Linked DNA regions of Homo sapiens: regions 1, 2 and 3 are each linked to region 4. The links come from fine-mapping of genetic effects on gene expression. A gene starts in region 4. Each other region holds a variant in brackets. All regions are shown on one strand. Distances are from middle to middle.

What was found.
Region 1: its variant is fine-mapped to the expression of RMI1 in whole blood (INTERVAL, PIP 0.92).
Region 2: its variant is fine-mapped to the expression of RMI1 in whole blood (INTERVAL, PIP above 0.99).
Region 3: its variant is fine-mapped to the expression of RMI1 in whole blood (TOPMed, PIP above 0.99). The same link has a PIP of 0.9 or more in lung.

The regions. Positions count from the first base shown.
Region 1 is chr9:83,854,410-83,856,909 of GRCh38, reverse strand. The region is part of intron 14 of KIF27 (kinesin family member 27); the gene reads left to right. The region is part of intron 2 of LOC124900638 (a long non-coding RNA gene); the gene reads right to left. Among named protein-coding and RNA genes, the nearest start is that of GKAP1, 38 kb to the right of the region's middle. The variant AG/G (reference allele first, on the strand shown) is at 1,123.
Region 2 is chr9:84,018,609-84,021,357 of GRCh38, reverse strand. No RefSeq gene overlaps it. Among named protein-coding and RNA genes, the nearest start is that of RMI1, 39 kb to the right of the region's middle. The variant A/GA (reference allele first, on the strand shown) is at 1,241.
Region 3 is chr9:83,745,333-83,748,081 of GRCh38, reverse strand. The region is part of intron 10 of GKAP1 (G kinase anchoring protein 1); the gene reads left to right. Among named protein-coding and RNA genes, the nearest start is that of UBQLN1, 39 kb to the right of the region's middle. The variant C/T (reference allele first, on the strand shown) is at 1,608.
Region 4 is chr9:83,979,498-83,982,246 of GRCh38, reverse strand. RMI1 (RecQ mediated genome instability 1) reads right to left here and starts at 1,442. Exons shown (of 3, transcript NM_001358291.2): 1 at 1,356-1,442. HNRNPK (heterogeneous nuclear ribonucleoprotein K) reads left to right here and starts at 2,032. Exons shown (of 17, transcript NM_031263.4): 1 at 2,032-2,094. RefSeq lists silencers at 1,029-1,108, 1,919-2,058 and enhancers at 753-1,261, 1,319-1,408, 1,429-1,498, 1,629-1,688, 1,262-1,769 and 2 more.

The sequences.
Region 1 (2,500 bases), 130 kb after region 4:
TTTGAGATGGAGTCTCACTCTGTCACTCAGGGTGGAGTGCAGTGGTGCGATCTCGGCTCACTGCCTCCATCTCCTGGGTTCAAGCAATTCTCCTGCCTCAGCCTCCCCAGTAGCTGGGATTACAGATGTGCGCTACCATGCCCAGCTAATTTTTTTTTTTTTTTTTTTTTGAGACGGAGTCTTGCTCTGTCACCAGGCTGGAGTGCAGTGGCGTGATCTCAGCTCACTACAACCTCCGCCTGCCTGGTTCAAGCGATTCCCCTGCCTCAGCCACCTGAGTAGCTGGCACTGCAGGCAAGTGCCATCATGCTTGGCTAGTTTTTTGTATTTTAGTAGAGATGGGGTTTCACCATGTTGGCCAAGATGGTCTCGATCTCCTGACCTCATGATCCACCCACCTCGGCTTCCCAAAGTGCTGGGATTACAGGTGTGAGCCACTGCACCTGGCCTAATTTTTGTATTTTTAGTAGAGATGAGGTTTCGCCATGTTGGTCAGGCTGGTCTCGAACTCCTGACCTCAAGTGATCCACCCGCCTCAGCCTCCCAAAGTGCTGGGTTTACAGGCCTTGAACCACCACACCCTGCCGAGAACATAAAATTTACAGGGAAATCTCTGCAGTGCTTGCTCAAAAGTTGTTGTTAGTTTTTTGTTTCATTTTACTTGGTCTCTGGACCAGCAGCAACAGCATCACTTGGAGGCTTGTTAGAAATGCAGATCCTCAGGCCCCAAGTGGACCTGCTGGATCAGAATCTGAATTCTAGTGAGCTCCTGGGTACACATTAAAGTTGAAAAGCAGTGCTCTATCATAAAGCAGAGTCAACTCTTGATAACCTGTGGTTTGTATTGTGGCAAATTTTTCATCCCAGGATAGTTACTTACCCATTGCCACGTATCTTGTCAGCCTACACCTATTGCTGAGTTAGAGGGAACTGCAAACACTGATATGCTGCAGCCTCACTGGAGCGGGCTGTCCTTGGGTTTCTATATTCACACTACCTTATATTATCTCAGTACTTCCTTAACTTAGATCCAAAACCATAGAAACTGAATTTATACGAAATTGTCCTCAGCCATGTATAAAGGCAAACTCTTCACATTTGTTTTTGATAAAATATAGTCAC[AG/G]TATAAATTCAAAAGTCAAGTACAGTAAAGTCCTCACTGAACATTGTGGATAGGTTCTTGGAAATTGTGACTTTAAGAGACACCATGTACATCAGGTCCTCAAATTACACTGTTTTCCTTCAACATAGTTGCTTTTGTTACAAAGTTAATAAGAAAAAAAATTTGTTTCGTTATGTATTGTTTCTCTTAAAGTCACAGTTTCCAAGAACCTATTGATGATAAGGACTTACTCTATATTGGATAATTCACTTTTATTTGTGGCTCCTCTTATTCATTCACCTAAGTACATTTTAGTATTTAAGGGGTTTTTTTCTTGAAAAGGTGAATATTATTTTATTCCTTATGGAGCAATTATCAAACCATCAAATTCCATATGGTTAGTGATTGCACAGAGAAATAGAATGGCTGGTGAACATTTTTCTTTAGGTAGATCAGAAATATTCACACTATTGGCCAGGCATGGTGGCTCACACCTGTAATCCCATCACTTTGGGAGGCTGAGGCAGGGAGATCACCTGAAGTCAGGAGTTCCAAGACCAGCCTGGCCAATGTGGCAAAACCCCTTCTCAACTAAAAATACAAAAATTAGCTAGGCGTGGTGGCATGCACCTGTAATCCCAGTTACTTGGGAGGCTGAGGCAGGAGAATTGCTTAAACCCAAGAGGTGGAGGTTGCAGTGAGCTGAGATCCCACCACTGCACTCCAGCCTGGATGACAAAGTGAGTGAGACCCTGTCAAAAAAAAAAAGAAAGAAATATTCATATTATTTTCCTTTGGGATGTTAGGGGAAGGAGTGGAGAGAAATAACATGGGTCCTGTAACCAAGGACACATGAAACTTTTTTCTCTTCTTTCTTCATTAAGTCAACAGATATTGAGTTCAAACTATGTGATAGGTACTGTGCTAGGCAATAAGGGTGTGCAGATGGACAAGATAGTCTGCCACAGGAACTTATCAAGGTGGCCTCCACAATAGGTATGGGTATATGGAAACATATATCCAAATCTCACCAATCTGAAGTAATTCTTTACCACAGATTTGTATCACCAACATAACATGTATTTGGATAGTTCAAAGAACTGGAAGAGCTGGGCATGGTGGCATGTGCCTGTAGTCCCAGCTACTCAGGACGGCAAGGTAGGAGGTTCGCTTGGGCCCAAGACTTTTGAGTTCAGCCTGGGCAACATAGCGAGACCCTGTGTCCAAAATAAAAAAAGAAAAGGAAAAAGAGAACTTGTAGGTTTTCCTACAGGGATTCATCGATCTTCTCTAGTATGTGAAAAAATACTACGTTGCCCTATTTTTAACACCTACATTTTCCTTCTAATAACATTTCATAGGAATCTTATGAAATATTTCAGATACTTAAATCCTCAC
Region 2 (2,749 bases), 39 kb before region 4:
ATCTTACCTGGAGAAACTTCAAATGCTTAGATTCAGAAAATTCAGTTAGGATGAAAAAGAGGAATGAGACCTGGGAATGAAAGCAGGGTTATTATTTAAAGCATGTGCTATGGTTTGAATGTCCCCGCAAAACTCTTGTTGAAATTTAATTGCCTGGCTGGGCACGGTGGCTCACGCATGCCTATTATCCCAGCACTTTGGGAGGCTGAGGCTGTTGACCAGCCTGGTCAACATGGTGAAACTCCGTCTTTACTAAAAATACAAACATTAGCTGGGCATGGTGGTGCACGCCCGTAATCTCAACTTCTCGGGAGGCTGAGGCAGGAGAATTGCTTGAACGCAGGAGGTGGAGGTTGCAGTGAGCCAAGATCATGCCACCACACTCCAGCTCCAGCCTGGGTGATGGAGCAAGACTGTCTAAAAATAAATAAATAAAATAAAATAAATAAAAAGAAAAAGAAAAAAAGAAAGAAAGAAATTCAATTGTCCATGTAACAGTATTAAGAGGTGAGACTTTAACAGATGATTAGGTCATGAGGGCTCCACCTTCATGAATGAACTACTACTATTATCATGGGAGTGAATTTCTTATCTCAGGAGTAGATTCGTAATTAGAAGGAGGGGGTTTGGCCAAATTTCCTTTCTCTGTCTTGCGTGCTCACTTCTGCTTTCCATGTTTCTGCCCTGGGATGGCCCTCACCAGATGCCAGAGCCATGCTCTTAGACTCCCTAGCCTCCAGAATTGTGAGATGAATAAACTTCTTTTCTTTACGAATTACCCAGTCTCTGGTATTCTGTTATATCAATAGAAAATGGACTAAAACAGCCTGTATAATATGGAGTATATAAAAAGCGCCCACTCCACTCCCACAAACCAGTAAGCAAAACATCCATCAAGCAGGTGATTGTTCTCCAGGCAGAAAATAATAGTAATAGGCCAGGTGCTGTGGCTGACGCCTGTAATCCCAGCACTTTGGGAGGCCGAGGCGGGCAGATCACTAGGTCAGGAGATCCAGACCATCCTGGCTAACATGGTGAAATCCCGTCTCTACTAAAAATACAAAAAATTAGCCCGGCGTGGTGGCGGACGCCTGTAGTCCCAGCTACTCTGGAGGCTGAGGCAGGAGAATGGCGGGAACTCGGGAGGCGGAGCTTGCAGTCAGCCGAGATCGCGCCACTGCACTCCAGCCTGGGCGACACAGCGGACTCCGTCTTAAAAAAAAAAAAAAAAAAAAAAAGG[A/GA]AGAGAATAATAGTAATAATAAACGTAAACACAGTTTTCTATAAAGAAGTTTATTGAACCATCTAGGAAGAATTAGGGCAGCTAAACGGGGCACTGTTGGCCAAGAAGCCCATTCAAGTATGAAAAGTTCAAAGTCAATCTTTCTATTGCTTCATTCTTTTTTTTTTTTTTTTTCCCCGAGACGGAGTCTCACTCTGTGGTGTGATCTCGACTCACTGCAACCTCCACGTCCCGGATTCAAGAGATTCTCCTGCCTCAGCCTCCCAAGTAGCTGGGACTACAGACACCTGCCACCACGCCCAGCTAATTTTTGTATTTTTAGTAGAGACAGGGTTTCACCCTGTTGGCCAGGATGGTCTCGATTTCTTGACCTCGTGATCTGCCACCTCGGCCTCCCAAAGTGCTGGGATTACAGGCGTGAGCCACCGCACCCAGCCTATTGCCTCATTCTTAAAAGTGGACAGATTATCAAAGATTGCCAGACTTTTAAGGAAAATCTGTAATGTGAATGAGAAACACAAAAGAAAAGAGAGGAATGTATTAAGAGAACTAAAGATAAATTCATAAGACAATTCATAAAACATAAACAACTTTTTTAAAAAAAGATTAGGCTGGGCACGGTGGCTCACGCCTGTAATCCCAGCACTTTGGGAGGCCGAGGTGGGCGGATCACCTAAGGTAATCAAGAGTTCAAGACCAGCCTGGTCAACATGGTGAAACCCCATCTCTACTAAAAAAAATACAAAAATTAGCCAGGCGTGGTGGTGTGCACCTGTAATCCCAACTACTCGGGAGGCTGAGGCAGGAGAATCGCTTGAACCCGGGAGGCAGAGGTTGCAGTGAGCCAAGATCTCACCACTGAACTCCAGCCTGGTGACAGTGCAAGACCCCATAAAAAAAAAAAAAAAAAAAAAAAGATTACTATGTATCCTCAAAAATATACAGAAGATACTACATTTATGAAACAAGAACCAGCTGCTATTAAATTTTTAAATATAATAATTCAATTAAATAACAGAAAGAGTTTTGGGAGATTAACAATTTGATGGCTGAAAAAAATAGAGGTTAGAAGGTAAGGTCAAGAAAGTCTTTCAGAAAGAAGAAACAAGACAAAAAAGTACACCAAGAAGAAAGTTAAGGCCAAGCACAGTGGCTCACACCTGTAATACCAGCACTTTGGGAGGCCAAAGTGGGAGGATCACTTGAGTCCCGGAGTTAGACCAGCCTGAGCAACATAGGGAGACCTCCATCTCTACAAATAATTTAAAAATTAGCTAAGCTTGGTGGCACATGCCCATAGTCCCAGCTACTTGGGAGGCTGAGGTGGGAGGGTCACTTGAGCCCTGGATGTTGAAGCTGCAGCAAGCTGTGACTGTGCCTCTGCATTCTATTCTAGGCAACAGAGCGAGACCCAGTCTCAAAAAAAAAAAGATGAAAGTTAATACACATGAAGACCAATCCAGAAGCCCAATATTTAACTAAAATGATAATTCAAGAAAAAGAAAATGA
Region 3 (2,749 bases), 230 kb after region 4:
TATTTGATCAGTACACTTTGTATGCCTGTATCAAAATATCACATGCACCTCATAAATATATATGATTATTATGTGCCAATAAAAAAAATTGAAAAAAAGACTCAACAAAGTAGAAAGGTTTCCCAGAGTGATATAAGCTACATAGTTGGCCAAGCATGGTGGCTCACCTGTAATCCTAGCACTTTGGGAGGCCAAGGTGGGCAGATCACTTGAGGCCAGGAGTTTGAGACCAGCCTGGCCAACATGGTGAAACCACATCTCTACTAAAAATACGAAAAGTAGCCAGGTGTGGTAGTGCACACCTGTAATCCCAGCTGCTCGGGAAACTGAGGCATGAGAATTGTTTGAACTCAGGAGGCAGAGGTTGCAGTGAGCCGAGATTGCACCACTGTACTTGCAGCCTGGGGAACAGAGCAAGACTGTCTCAAAAAAAAAAAAAAATGCTGGATAGTTGCTGATAAAGTTATTATTACAGGTCACTCTTACAGCACCTTAGTTTTATACCAGTTTATAACTATTCAGGTAAAAGAAACTCTTAAAATTTCAATTCTTATAACTTACTGAACTATATTTAGAGGGAAAACAAGCCTAACATTTGCTTAGGATTCTGCTTTTTCAGTTATTGAAGGAGGCAGCCTGTCATCACTTTAGGTTTTCCTTTTTGTTTCCTTATTTCCTTCTCCCCTCCCCACTGCTCTTCATACTTTTGCTGCTACTCTGTAAACTTTTGACAAGAGGTTACCAGCAGGAAGCCAAGGAAATCAATAGAAAAAAATGATTGCAGATGATAAGATTAGTAAAGCTGATATACAAAAGCCTGCCAAATCAGTTGCATTTCTCACTGTGTATATACCTAGTGACATTTATCTTGAAAGTTTTATGAAAATTTTCCATTCATAATAGAAAAAGAAATATATGTTAATTTTTTAGTATGAGACTTAGGCAAAGGAAATTATAAACCACAAAAGAAACACAGATTAAGACATAAAGGAGAAAATCTTTCTCTGAATAGACAAAATTAATCAACAGTTTTCCTGTTAATAAATGCTAATGAAACTCCAAAGATAGCTCCTGTGAATATTGTATAGCTCTTAAGAAATTGTGAAATTCACCTTGAAAAATGAAAAAACAAAATACCAAAAATGGTTTTCAGATGTGAAGATATAGTCAGCCCTCCATATCCATGGGTTCCCCATCTGTGGATCAATCAATTGTGGATCACAAATATATTTGTTGAAATTGTACATGTGCAGACTTTTTTCTTGTCATTACTCCCTAAACAATAACAGTGTAACAACTATTTACATAGCATTTATGCCATATTAGGTATTATAGGTAATCTAGAGGTGATTTTTTTAAATTGTTATTTATTTATTTATTTATTTTTTGAGAAGGAGTCTTTCTCTGTTGCCCAGGCTGGAGTGTGGTGGCGCTCACTGCAAGCTCCGCCTCCCAGGTTCACACTGTTCTCCTGCCTCAGCCTCCCAAGTAGCTGGGACTACAGGCGCCTGCTACCACGTCTGGCTAATTTTTTTGTATTTTTACTAGAGACGGGGTTTCACCATGTTGGCCAGGATGGTCTTTATCTCCTGACCTCGTGATCCACC[C/T]GCCTCGGCCTCCCAAAGTGTTGGGATTACAGGCATGAGCCACCACGCCCAGCTAGTAATCTAGAGATGATTTAAAGCATATAGAAGGATATGCATAGGTTTTATGCAAATATACACCATTTTATAGTAGGGACTTAAGCATCTTTAGATTTTGGTGTCCTCGGGATGTCCTGCAAGCAATTGTATACCAAGGGATGACTATACTTGGAATATAACTGTCCAAACAAAATTTAAACTACATTACAAAATAGTTGTCAAACAATGAGTAAAAATCAGAAATCATGTCCAGTTGAACAGAACATGAATACTCTTGAAGTAGGTTCAACCTTATATTTTTTATAACTTAACTATTACACAAATAGAAGTTAAAGAATTATGGGGGGAGGCCAGGCGCAGTGGCTCATGCCTATAATCCCAGCACTTTGGGAGGCCGAGGCAGGTGGATCACTTGAGGTTAGGAGTTCGAGACCACCCTGGACAACATGGTGAAACCCTATCTCTACTAAAAATACAAAAATTAGCCAGGTGTGGTGGTGCTTGCCTATAATCCCAGCTACTTGGGAGGCTGAAGTGCAAGAATCACTTGAACACAGGAGGCAGAGGTTGCAATGAGCCAAGATCATGCCACTGCACTCCATCCTGGCTGATAGAGTGAGACTTTGTCTCAAAAAAAAAAAAATACGGGGAAAAATATTATTTGGACATTTAGATGTCTACATCCTGAGATTAATTTAGACCTGTGCATGTTATTGATCTCCATGTGGGTCTTTTAATGAACAAAGTTATGAAAATAAAAAATTAAGTTATTTAGAAGATATATTTCTAAGTGCAGAAATGAAGAGTATCATTGCGTATTGGATGTATAAATTCTAAATATGTAAAAATAAAATAATATTTCCTCCCCATAAAACACTGTGGAAATTGAGAAAGTTAACTGATAAAAGCTTGCTCTCAAAAATAGATTAAAAATCGCTATCAGTAACAACAGTGTCCATAGCATAAGTAATCCAAGTAGAATTTTATATAGGATCATTACATGAAAATACTTGTAACACTTATAATGTAAATGTAAATATGGTCAGTTCTGTAATAATGCAGCATGTGTTCCTAAAAATCACTAGTCTCTGCAAAATCACACAAGA
Region 4 (2,749 bases):
TATTAGTGTCAGTGACATGTCTCAGGTTTTAAATGACAAACTCAATTAAATGTTGCAAATACTAACTGGCGGATTAAATCTCTATAATCCAAGTATCCTAAGCCCCTACATAAACTCATCAGTTTTGAATATTTAATAAAATTCTGAACTTTGTGTTTTAGAACTGAAATGCGAGTTAAGTTTTACCTACCCAACAAGACTATACACTCTTCATGGTGGGGACCATTTAAAAAATTATATTATCACTTAAAGAGAACTTTTATAAATTCCACAATCCCGGACATTATGTTCTAACAGCATGTGTTAACGTATCCTCCCAGAATGTAAATACTGGTGTTTGTCATGAAATCCTCAGTGCGCCCTAACAAGAGTTTTCCTCTAATCAGTCAAGTAAAAGATGCTGGGTGGATGCAATCATGGCCATTTAAAAGAATGCTGGTATATATGTTTTGCAAATTACCCAAGAAGGAAACATTATAACAGGAATGAATCAGCACAAATTCATCAACACTAAAATATATGCATGTATTCGGCCAATGGTGGATTTCGCTTTATGTGCAGATTATGACACCTTTATGCTTCAAAATGAGTTTGGGATTGTGGGCGGAGGCTGGAAGGTTGACGAGTAAGGATGTGGAAAGCGGGTACTACCAGGGCTGGAGATTTCCCAGGGCTGTCACCGATTGAAAGTGACCTTATGTGCCTTAACAAAGGAAGTCATGAAAGCTTGGCACAGGAGCCTTAAAAGTAAGGAACCGAATACAATGCAAGTGTGCGCTGAACCCGCTAGAACAGGAGCACGTTTGAGGGCAAGGGTTTTTGTCTGTTTTCATCACTGCCACAAGGCAGGCGCTTTGAATGGAACGTGGAGGTCTGCAACGTATTCAGCGATACGCATTCATTTTAGGAGACAAGGGCAATACATATTGCCTAAAAATTTTATCGGAATAAACTACAGCGACGACACTACAAAATACTTCCATCTCAGGTCCCATTACCCAAGAGGAAAGTCTCAGAACCGAGAGCCCTGTGAAACCGCCTGTGCCCTCTCGGCGAGAAGTTCTCCAGTACTCCCAGGCTCGCCCCGCGTTTCCCCGGCTCCCGCCCCGGCGCAAGGCAGGCCGAGAACCGCCAGCTGCGCCCCCGGGCCCGGCCTTGACTGACGGGCGCCCCGGACCATTACAAACAACGGGTTTCCGAAGCGTGGGCCCGGCCCAGCGGACGCAGACGGCCCGCACTTACCGCGCCGCAGCTCGTCCCACAGCCCACAGACCACAGCCCGGGGCGGGGTAAGGGGCTTCGGGCACGAGTGTGGGCTGTGAAAACACGGGCATAAGTCTGGGCCGAGCACCGACCTGGGCGTCCCGCATTTTCCTCGCGCAACATCGGTCCCTGGGCAGCGCAACTGTAAGGACAGGAACCGCCGCGGCGCGCTCCCAGTTCCTTTTTTACCTCTTCCCGCCCGATTTGCCGCGCGCTCGCGCCCCTCCTCCAACCCCAAAGGACTCCTTCGGGGCTGGAAAACGCCCCTTCCCCGCCCCCTCCCTGTGCGCGTGAACTAGGCAGTTGTTAGATCTCGCGAGAGGTTCGCCCCCTAGCCGCCCCTCCCCCCAGCTAGTGAGTGCGCGAACGAGAAAGGAGGAGGGCGCTCCAGGCGACAGCACTGCAGACGCCATTATCCTCTGTTTCTCTGCTGCACCGACCTCGACGTCTTGCCTGTGTCCCACTTGTTCGCGGCCTATAGGTAATTGGAGTTATTGGAGCTTGGGTATTGCTGATTCGGGTAAGGGTTGGGGCTCCCTGAAAGGCTGCGTTTACTTTTCCCAAGCCCGGGTTTTCTCGAGCCCTTAGTGGCCTCCCAGCCCGAAGGGAGGCGCTGGCGGGAGGCGGGGTTGTCGCCTCCTCCGTCGCCTTGATTGACGTGGCCTCGGGCCAATCGCTTCGCCCTCGCACCATCGCTGAAGCCCTGGCAGCCAATAGGGCGCGACGGCGGGGAGGACGCGAGAAGGCGGGGGAGGGGAGCCTGCGCTCGTTTTCTGTCTAGCTCCGACCGGCTGAGGCGGCGCGGCAGCGGAGGGACGGCAGTCTCGCGCGGTGAGGAGCCGGGTTGGGGGAGCGGCTCGTGGAGGTGAGGGTCGGAGCCCAGTTTTTCCGCTTGAGGGAGGCGTCCTGGGAGCCGCTTTGGTGTTTGGCCGCTTCTCCGAGTGGGAACGTTGCCCGGTGTCCCCTCCCCCACCTCCGCCATTTCCCTGAGCGTGTATCCGCAGTCCGCGTTGTGGTCCTAGAGACTTGGGGATTCGTGAGGCATGTGCCTCTAGGATGAGCTGGAGCTATGTGGCACTGGGAACTAGGGACCTCGTGGAGGAAAGGAGGCCGGTGCGGGGAGAAGGTCGCGCCGCCGCTCTCTTTGTGTGAGCCCCGCCTCACCTTGGGTCTCCCGGCCCGGGGTCGGAGCTGGAGCGGCGGGGATGGAACGGTCAGGGCTGCCTCGATGGCTTTGTCTCGGGCAGTGGGGGGAGGATGCGGGGGATGAGACCTCGGGACCGCGTGGTGGGTGGGGGAGGGGGTCGGCGCTCGGCTCCGCCTAGTAGCACGTAGTCGCCATTACGCGGGCCGCCATTTCCTGTCGGATCCGGGTGAGGAGAGGTGCGGTGCTTCTGCTGTCGACTTTCGCTTTTTCCCGTCCTGTTACCCGGCTGTTTTTGATCTCGGTGCCGGGAGGCGGGGAGGGGAGGGCGCGTTGGCGCTC